Regions from separate parts of the Homo sapiens genome. Here region 2 is linked to region 1. Evidence: fine-mapped expression QTL. A gene starts in region 1. The other region holds a variant in brackets. All regions are shown on one strand. Distances are between the middles of the regions.

What was found.
Region 2: its variant is fine-mapped to the expression of TRAPPC13 in unexposed skin (GTEx, PIP 0.97).

Annotation. Positions count from the first base shown.
Region 1 is chr5:65,622,048-65,627,434 of GRCh38, reverse strand. It overlaps TRAPPC13 (trafficking protein particle complex subunit 13), which reads right to left and starts at 2,408. Exons shown (of 13, transcript NM_024941.4): 1 at 2,329-2,408. The coding sequence starts at 2,374. It overlaps TRIM23 (tripartite motif containing 23), which reads left to right and starts at 3,102. Exons shown (of 11, transcript NM_001656.4): 1 at 3,102-3,241. The coding sequence starts at 3,161. It overlaps SHLD3 (shieldin complex subunit 3), which reads right to left and starts at 2,408. Exons shown (of 2, transcript NM_001365341.2): 1 at 2,329-2,408. RefSeq lists enhancers at 2,893-2,972, 3,103-3,432.
Region 2 is chr5:65,469,115-65,474,501 of GRCh38, reverse strand. It overlaps ADAMTS6 (ADAM metallopeptidase with thrombospondin type 1 motif 6), which reads left to right. Exons shown (of 25, transcript NM_197941.4): 2 at 550-925; 3 at 3,360-3,724. The coding sequence starts at 829. Among named protein-coding and RNA genes, the nearest start is that of ADAMTS6, 10 kb to the left of the region's middle. The variant A/G (reference allele first, on the strand shown) is at 3,213.

The sequences.
Region 1 (5,387 bases):
TGGTCTCGAACTCCTGATCTCAAGTGATCAGCCACCTCACCCAACCAAGAATAACAAGATATTATCTTTAACATTTTACATATTAAAAGATAAAGTGAACTTAAATGACCACTTAAATTAATACATTTGGCATTCAGCATCAGCACATTGAAATGTGTGAAAATTGTTGATTAACTAGAACAATGGGTTAACTATAAGATGGTACTAAAGAGGTTTAATAAAGTTGAAACTATCAGTCAATTTTGAAGCACTTGTCCGTTTAGGCTGCTTATTGTTCTTTTTTTTTTTTTTTTTTTTTTTTTTGAGACAGGGTCTCACTCTGTCACCCAGGCTGGAGTGCAGTGGCGCAATCTCAGCTCACTGCAGCCTCTGCCTCCCAGGTTCAAGCGGTTCTCCTGCCTCAGTCTCCCGAGTAGCTGGGATTACACCACCACACCTGGCTAATTTTTGTATTTTTGGTATAGACGGGTTTTCGCCATGTTGGCCAGGCTGGTGTCAACTCCTGATCTCAAGTGATCTGCCAGCCTCGGCCTCCCAAAGTGCTATTACAGGCGTGAGCCACCACGCCTGGCTTAGGCTGCTTAAATATTCTTTCTTAGGTATCCTTGGTTTTGGAAAAAAAAGAATAACAGAAAACTAAAAATTCCCAGTGGCAGTCTCTGTATCACTGGAATTTAACTTTTTGTTTGTTTGTTTTTTGAGATGGAGTCTCGCTCTGTTGCCTAGGATGGCGTGCAGTGGCGTGATCTCGGATCACTGCAAGCTCCGCCTCCCGGGTTCACGCCATTCTCCTGCCTCAGCCTCCTGAGTAACTGGGACTACAGGCGCCCGCCACCACGCCTGGCTAACTTTTTGTATTTTTATAGAGACGGGGTTTCACTATGTTAGCCAGGATGGTCTTGATCTCTTGACCTTGTGATCACCCGCCTTGGCCTCCCAAACTGCTGGGATTACAGGGGTGAGCCACCACGCGCGGCTGCAATTTAACTGTTTTTAATAGCTTCTAATTTGTATAAATCACACGTAGCAGTTAATAGAACTGTTCCAAATTCCCATCGGAGTAGCTGGTAGAGGAATTATCTCTGAGAATGCTGCTTCATTCTTTAGGAGGCAACACGGACTCTTGGAAAGAGAGGCAGGCCTTGCGTTGAAACACTGCCTCAATCACTAGCTATGTGATCTTGGAAAAGTTACTTAAACTCTGAGAATTAATATTTACTCCACATACTTGAAGTGAGATTGTGAGATAAAGAACACGACAATTAGTTGCTTTTCTTCTTTTCCCTCTTCTCCACGAGTAACAATCCATTTTAATCTCCATTTTAGTCTAGATCATTTGCTCAGGTTAAGCTTACAGGTCCCATCACTGTATCACTAAACATTACAAAGTTCCACAGTAAGAGACAATCTCGCTAACACAGGCATCATTATATGAGACTGATGAGCTTCTAGAAAGTCTGATGACTACATCATAATGGGAAGGATAAGGCGTTCCTCAAAATGGATGCCATAAGTAAAGTAAGCGCAATTCAATTGAACCCGAATGTTTATTGAGCATTTCCTCAGCTCATTCAAGAAGTCATTGTTAACCATATATTAAGGCATCCAAGAAACAAAAAGCGCATTTGTTGTAGTAAAAAACAAATAAAATAAAGCTGAAAAGATTTCAAATAAAAGGTTTCCAGAAAATAGGCATTAAAAAAATTGTCCTAAAAAAAAAAGTGCTGCTGTTTTTTCCTAAATAATGATCTAATTAAATCACCAAACTTACTCAAAATGGCTGTGTACAAAAAATGAGAGTTGACATTAGATCTCGGACATATTTCCCACATACACAGTGATTTGAAGTAAACTGCAGTTTGTTTTGAATAAATCTAAGTTATATGTTGTATTACTATGTATTGCTAAATTCTCTGCACTACTGTCATGCAATACTAATTTTACAGGGGAAGCTGAAGCCTGATTAACTTCGTCAGTGCCACAGGAAGAAACAAGAGACAGAAGGAAAAAGCACTTTGGATGCCCGCTGTAATTCACAGAGATCTCCACGGTAGGAGCGGGACGTCAGCTTCTGCGGCTAAAATCTCGTGACTGAAGCAGCACAGATCAGAAAGAACGATTTACCAGGTATCTATTTCGTTCTAGAAAGGGGCCCATAAACCTAAAAAGCATCCAGGAGAAATCGCTTCCTCCCGCTTGGCGGCAAAGGACAGAGCAGGAGGGCGAGCACTGAGTGTTTAAGAAGGATGAGGCCTACATGGCAAAGGCTTCGATAAGTAGGGAATGCAAGGAAACAGAAAAGGGGGAATCAGGTTCGCAAAAGTTTACCTTTTAGCGCCAGCAGGTGCTCCTGTTTAGGGGGATTCACTTCCATTTTGACCGGCACTTTTGACCCACAGCCTACGGGGGCTGGACAGGTTCAACTTGCCCCGGAAGGAAACGGAAAACCTCGCGTTTGGCAAAACCAAAAGTCAAACGCACTCTCAACCTCTCTCTGGTGGTGGTACCTTAAATTCTCCTACTGTGTCCTTTACAAACTGGCTTCTTTTCAACAAGTCCATTTCTTCTATCTTAGAAACGTAGGCATAAAATACTTTGTTTTCCATCTGCAATCACACATCGCGACTGCAGGAAAAGAAACCACCCCTAGGTAACAATACGCGGCCTCCCAAAGGCCAACGTTGCCGGAGTTTTTTTTTTAAAAAAAAAAAAAAAAAAAAAAAAGAGAGAGAGAGAGAGTGGCATGCTGGGATTTGTAGTTTATACAAAAACCGCGTTGCATGCAGGGAGATGCCCGTACCCCCTCACCGCCCTCAGTTCACGCCCTGGCTGGTTTGGATTCGAGAGGAAAAATCATTAAAGGATCTGGAGTTTTCACCCCAAAACTTTAATCGTTTTGTCCCTTCTTTTTTTTTCTTGTCTTTCCTCCAGCAGCTGCAGACTACATAATGAAAAATAACAAAAGTGCCCATGCGCGAGGCTGTGCAACTAACCACCCGACGATTGCGGGGAGGAGGAGTAAGAGTCGGCTAAGCGGCGCCCAGTGTCCTACTGCGCCTGTGCGCCGGTGGCGTGCGCAGAGGCCTCTGGGTAGGTGGCTCAACCCCGCCTCTCAGTTGAGGACTCTGAAGGCTGTTTCTGTGGCGCTTCCCCTGCGAGGATGGCTACCCTGGTTGTAAACAAGCTCGGAGCGGGAGTAGACAGTGGCCGGCAGGGCAGCCGGGGGACAGCTGTAGTGAAGGTGAGGGACCTTGCGTGCTCTATTCTCCACCATCGGCCTCCCTTCGGTTCATCCTGGAGACCTGGCGGCATCGCCGCGGCCCAGGCTTCGATAGGTGGGATGCGCGGCCTCTGGGCCCCTTTTGGCATTACAAGTCTCGTCCTGTCCTCTGCATCCTTTCTCTCCTATGGCCTGAAATTGCCTGGTCTTCTGCTCATGACATGTCATCATCGGGACATTTGTGAAAAGGAGCTTGCGGGCCAGTGGCAGTGACCTAGACCGGTCTTTTCTCCAGGTCCTCTGCTTTTAGTTAAACTCAACAGACATTAATTAGCTTAGTATTATAAATTGAGTCATCATCATCGTAACTACGTACTAAGTTAGGTGTTTTAGCTCGTTAATATCTACTTATGAAGTAGATGTGAATTCCCATTTTACAGGGAGGAAACCCAGGTTTAGGTAAACAGTGTGTGGCAGAGCCCCGGGTTGACCGGCTTTAAAGTCTGTACTTTTCGCTCTTGTACTGCGTCTGTAATCAGACATCTGTTATTGGGTGAGCTGCCCCCTCCCCTGTTAGTAGTACAGTCTATTAACTCTTTGCACAAGTCTGCAGCATCGTCATAGCTGGGCATTAACGATAGAGTTTATGAATTTTCTTATGCTTGAAGTTTGAGATTCTACCATGTATACATGCTCCAGAATCAATTTGCTAAAAAATCATTTGAAATATGTGGCACTCATTTTTCCCTTCCACTGTTGTGCACGGAAAGATATGGAGGGGAGAACTGATCCCATTGGTTTATAGAGTAACCTTCAGGAGCATCTCTAATCTAAGAGATTGATAATTCTCATTCCTGGCTACATATTAGGATCACTGAGGAGTTTTAGTACACTACTGATGCACTCCTCCTCCAGTTCTGATGAGGTTGACATCAGTATATTTTAGGAATTACCAGAAGTTATTTTAATGTGCAACCAGGGTTATGAATTACTGATCAAGGTAATATATGAAGTTTTTTTCACATCTTGAAAAGTAGACACCTATGATTATTCAGGTAATGTTGGTTTTATATGACAGCAAATGAGACATTTCTTCCCACAATTTAGTATCAGTGAATATTGGTGGTTGTTGATTCAGATGACCTTTAGGTACTAATGAAGTTATTCTACAGGTACACGGCATATCTGATATGCAAAGGAGCCCTCATTATTAGGCATGTTGTGTGACTGAGATTTTATTTATTGAATTGTGCTTTTGCTAAGTAGAGAATACTTGAAGAGCAGTTTGTGAATTAACTTGAAGTTTAAGTTTTATTTCATAATTGGAATGGGTATCATTGCAGTATCTATTTTTTTGTTACCCTGTTTGCCTTACAGTCTCAAAAGTGTACCAAAGCCTGATGTAACTCCAGTTTCTTACAGCACAGAATTTGATACATTGGAGGCTCACCTTGTTCATTTTCATCTTAACATGTAAAATATTCCTGAACTGTGCAATGAAATAGTCCTTTCTGACAAAATCTTCATGCCATAATTTGTAGTAGGTATAGTAGCATAAACTAAAAAAATCTCACTGTCATTTCTATAGATGAAAGCAAGAAGTATTTATTGGAAGGTAAAAGTTGAAGTATATAATGCTAATACTGTGTAAAATGGCCTTTTGCTTGTGAACAAGTTGATAATGACATGGCTTTTATCATTAGAGAAAACAGTAACATAAAAATCTGATATTGTGGCTAGGCGCGGTGGCACACGCCTGTAAAGCACAAAGTGCCTGGGAAGCACTTTGGGAGGCCAAAGTGGGCGGATCACTTGAGGTCAGGAGTTTGAGACTAGCCTGGCCAACATGGCGAAACCCCGTCTCTACTAATAATACAAAACGTAGCCAGGCATTGTGGTGTGGGCCTGTTAATCCCAGTTACTCAGGAGGCTGAGGTAGGAGAATCACTTGAACCCAGGAGGCGGAGGTTGCAGTGAGCTGAGTTTGTGCCACTGCATTCCAGCCTGGGTGACAGAGTGAGACTCCATCTGAAAAATAAAAGATAAAAAATCTGATATTGTGAAATAACTGACATTTAAAAATGTATCACAGAAAGTTTCACACCTTTAATCTCAGCACTTTGGGAGGCTGAGGTGGGAGGATTGCTTGAGCCCCAGAGTTTGAGAC
Region 2 (5,387 bases), 150 kb after region 1:
TAGTACATACAGTTCAACTTTTTAGAAGTTTAGCTTCTGATACTGTCTTAGTATTCACAGATGGCTGCTAAATGTCACTATTTGTAGATCTACTTTGTCAGAAAAAAAAATGATAGGTGCCTTATAAAGCAACACAACAATATCTGGATATGAGTGTGTTTAAAAGGCATGTTATGGAATGGGATTACATATTGTTTGTCACATATAATGAACTGAAGTAGTGAAGTCAGCCGATTTTATTTTATCAAAAGGAAGTTAACTCATTGCCCATCATTGTTATCTTCAAAGTTTTTAAAAAAGAATTATGATTTCTCTTTAGATTCCTTATTTGATTATTAAGTAACTCTGGCATTATGCTGATAACCATTTTGGTCTCTAATTCTGTGTCTAATCTTGTGAATGTTTATTTAGACTATAAAGACTAACAATGGTCTAATTTAACTATATTATTTTGTAGTTATGTCTTTTGGCAAGGATTCAGTACTATATAGGACTTGGATTTTTCCATTCTGGATATTTTTCAGTTAACTTAAATTTTTTTTTTTCTAGGTTAAAAAATGGCCATACTTTAGTAACTAATCAGCCTAATGCTTTGCTTATGAAAACTTTTACCATCATTATTTTTTTCATTTTGGATTGAGAAAATGAATCCAGATATAGAAGAAAGTGCAGGATGTTGGATAAAAGTGGCTCTTAAACAGTGGAACATCCAATAACTAATTTGCAAGAAGTTTTAAAGAAATAAAATTGTTATGCTTCGATTTTGGTATGGTATTGACTCTTTAGCACATAGGTAGCCCTCAAAAAAATCATCCAGTTTTCTAAATTATGGAAATTTTGTGGAAGACGTTGACCTGGATTTTGAGCCTCATCATGGCTTCATCGGAATTTCATAGTGACCACAGGCTTTCATACAGTTCTCAAGGTAGGATTCTTGCTTTTGAAACTGACAAAAAATATTGCTATTAATTGGACAAGAAAAGATTCTGCATATTTAGTTTGGGTGGATAGTTTTTTTTGGGATATGTAGTGATAGGAATAGAGGCCTACTGTGTCAATTCGGTATTAGTTTCATAAATGTTAAGGGCTATGCGTCGTTTAACTTGTCCTACTAGTATTTAACATCCCGTGGATTTTAGAGTTGACTGGTCTTTCTTGGAAAATGATAGACCCCAGGCCTTGTTCTTCTGAAACTTAAACTTTAATAAGCTTGTTCATTACTAGAGTTTATGGGCAAGGACATGTTCAAAGAGAATCCAAACATTTATGCTGTGGAAGAAGAAACCAGATAAATTATGATACAGGACCCTTTTAATATGGACCCTTTGTGAAAAAATACTTTTGCAAACCTGAGAGTTCTGATCTAAAGACTAGAATCTGAGTGTAAGAATGAGAACTGTAAGAAGTGCAACTTTTCACATTCTAATCTTTATAATTTTAATCTATAGAATTGAGCTTTATATCGTAGAAATGATCTTAACAAAGCAGGCCCAGGAGTAAATGTCATTTTGTTTTCCATGGACCAGTCCAGTCCTTATAGAATTATTGAGAGGCATACCTTTTGGATTTCCCTCCCATGAATACATAGTAATAGATAATTTTTTGGTGCCGATGAACCAGATTTTCAAGACTATTACAGATTGATGTATGTATCTAGAAATCCATGTTAAAAAGTGTGGCTGTCAAAGTAAATCAATGAAGCCATGACATTTAGTATGAACTCTAATTATTTATAAGAAGTGAAATAAACACTGTCTTTGAATTTATTTACATTTGGTTATGGTTTTATAGGAGTTTATATTAGTGTGTAAACTCCATGTATAGACACTGAGGCAAATAAGCAGACATTTGGTTTACCTTAGTGGTAAATCTAGCTGAAAGAAGGTACAGCTAAGAAGGTAGATGGAAAATGTTTAGTACATCTAAATGAGGAAAATATGTTCCTCATTTAGTTCTCTGAAATTTTAGTCAAGCTGTTTTTAAAATAGCTTTATTGAGATATTACTACACATACCATAGAATTCACCCATTTAAGGTATAAAATTCAGTGGTTTTTAGTATTTTCGGCATTGTACAACCATCACAATAACCTATTTTATTTTATTTCATCTTATTTTTTGGCACTAGTGTCATCGCCAACATAATCAATTTTAGAACATTTTCATCACTCCAAAAAGAAGCCTATACTTCTTAGTGGTCACTTCCAAATTCCCTCCAAACCAGCCTTCACCTCCAGCTGTAGGCAACTAAACCTTCTGTCTGTAGAGATTTCCCTATTCTGGATATTTCATATAAATGCAATGATATGTGGCATATTGTGACTTGCTCTTTTACTTAATGTTTTAAATGTTAGATAATGAACTTTGATTATGAAGACAGTTGTTCTGAAGGTTCATTCATGTCATAGCATGTATCACTACTGCATTCCTTGTTATTGTAAAATAATATTGCATTGTGTGGATATACTACATTTTGTTTGTCTATTCATCAATTGATGGAAATTTGGTTTAATTCCCCTTTTTGAGTATGATGAATATTGCTGAGCATTCACATCTAAATTTTTATGTGAATGTGTGTTTTCATTTCTATTGTGTATATACCTGAGAGTAGGATTGCTGGATCATATGGTTAACTCCATGTTTAAAATTTTGAGGAATTGTCAGACTGTTTCTCAAAGTGGTTACAGCATTTTACATTCCCATTGACGTGTTTTTGTTTTTGTTTTTCGTTTTGTTTTTTTTTTTGAGACGGAGTCTTGCTCTGTCGCCCAGGCTGGAGTGCAGTGGCGCAATCTCGGCTCACTGCAACCACCACCTCCCAGGTTCAAGTGATTCTCCTGCCTCAGCATCCAGAGTAGCTGAGACTACAGGCGTGTGCCGCAACGCCCGGATAATTTTTTTGTATTTTTAGTAGAGGCGGGGTTTCACCGTGTGATGATTTCTTAAAAAATAATAATTTCTACAAGGCTATAGAGATTCTTTTTTGGATAACTTTCAAAAACAGATTCTGAGCTAAACTCTTTTCTTTTACATATGTGTGCTTCTCATTATTTTTTATTTCAAAGTAAAATTTTAATATTTCTTGTAGAATTTAGCTCTTAGGATCCATGTTTTAAAAATTAAAAAAGTAAAATAGTCCTTCACAAGTAATATTAAAATGATGGCAACTTAATCTTCAGATTTTAAACTTTTATTCTTTCATTTTTGTTTAAT[A/G]TAACTTTTTTTGTACATACCTCACATATAATGATTCATAGTTTTAATTGACATAGTTGTTGTTTATATTGCTGCTTCTTTGTTCCGTTAAATTTTCTTTTCTTCCATGTGTTTTTTTTCTGGATTCTCTGCCTTGTGATTACAAAGAGGAATTCCTGACTTATCTTGAACACTACCAGCTAACTATTCCAATAAGGGTTGATCAAAATGGAGCATTTCTCAGCTTTACTGTGAAAAATGATAAACACTCAAGGAGAAGACGGAGTATGGACCCTATTGATCCACAGCAGGCAGTATCTAAGTTATTTTTTAAACTTTCAGCCTATGGCAAGCACTTTCATCTAAACTTGACTCTCAACACAGATTTTGTGTCCAAACATTTTACAGTAGAATATTGGGGGAAAGATGGACCCCAGTGGAAACATGATTTTTTAGACAACTGTCATTACACAGGATATTTGCAAGATCAACGTAGTACAACTAAAGTGGCTTTAAGCAACTGTGTTGGGTTGGTAAGTAGATGCTATAATTTTAAACTTCTGATGGGAAAATAAGAATTTTGCAATGTAAATGTCTTTCCTCAGATTAAAAAAAAAATATATATATATATAGGTAGTTTAAGTAGGAAGGTAATAGTTTAAAATTTTTTGCTATTTCTGCTGCCTTTGATTTTGATTTTCTTTTTAATAATGTATTGACTTTTCAAAGGGCAGCTTTTAAAACTCTATTATTAGAAGAGGAATGAACAAAACTTCAGATTTCCCTTTAGACTTATGTTTTTCTGTTCAAATAAGATATCTTTTATGCATAAACAAAACTCAGTCATTTTTGAAGAATTTTAGGGTATGTTTGTATGTATATGTGTATTATGGCAGGAAGCCACAACACTGACATTCTTTTTATAATATCTTTCTTTGGTAGGTAACATATCTTAAAATTTCTTATGACCTACTTACAGTTATAAGTTCTCGAAGTAAAATCTTTTATACAGTGTCTATGAGATAATTTTTTATACATTTATATGAAGATTGATATAAATCTTATTTTAGTTAGAAAATGGGTTCTAGGCTGGGTGAGGTGGCTCATGTCTGTAATCCCAGTGTTTTAGGAGGCCGTGATGGGAGGATTACCTGAGGCTAGGAGATCAAGACCAGCCTGGGCAGCATGGCGAGGCACCCATTTCTAAAAATATATTTTTAAGAAAGAATGGAAAAAAGAAAATGGGTTCAAGACTACAGGGTTTATCCTGGGCATTTGAATCCATTCTAGTCTAATGGTAAATACACAGTTCAAAGTTGCACATAGTAATAATTGCAAAACAAAGCAAATTTCCATGCTTTCTCTTCTGTGTTTACCCTGTTCAGGCTAATGTAGCTGTTCCATTAAAGCTGTATCTGTGAAAAGGGTAAAAACATTTTGATGCTCAAGGAACATTTTCAGAAACTTTTTCTTTTTTATTATAACATACCCATATTCTTATTTCTGTTTCAATATAAAATAACTATAATTCGAGTTGGGTTTAAATAAGTTTTAAATTTGAAAGGACTATCAAGAACTACACAATGGAGGAAAACATTTCACTGTAGATGTATATAGGAATGTGCTCCAATTGTCTACTTTCTATCACTGTTAAGTAAAATGAACCAAAATATTTACTTAGCTTGTAAGATTTAGGCTTAATTTCTACAAATAGACAAATTGAGTATACTCATTACTAGTTTCTCTATAAGCAGTGTTAGGACTTTCTCTATAAAACAGATTTATTTTTTTAAATAAAATTATCCAAAATGTGTTCTAAAACTTTTCATATGTTAAAATGGCACACTATTCATTATCATAGAAAAATACTATTCCTAGTTATTGACTAGGTTATTTATGTTTGGCATTAACATTAATTATGCCATTGCTAGTTTTAACAGGGTGATGAAATGAGCACATTCAAGAACAAAACTAATTCCATTGTGGGATTTGAGAGAAGAGTGATTGTAGATATGAAGATAATTTAGAACATGTAGGAGACAATAAGGGCCTATTCGAAGACTATGGCATTGAGAATAAAGAAGACAGAATGAATTTGAACCACATTTAGGGACAAAATTTAAAATATTTGCATCCTATTAATTTTTTCTTTCCTGACATGTAATAAGACAGAGAATACATAGTAGGTAGTTAATA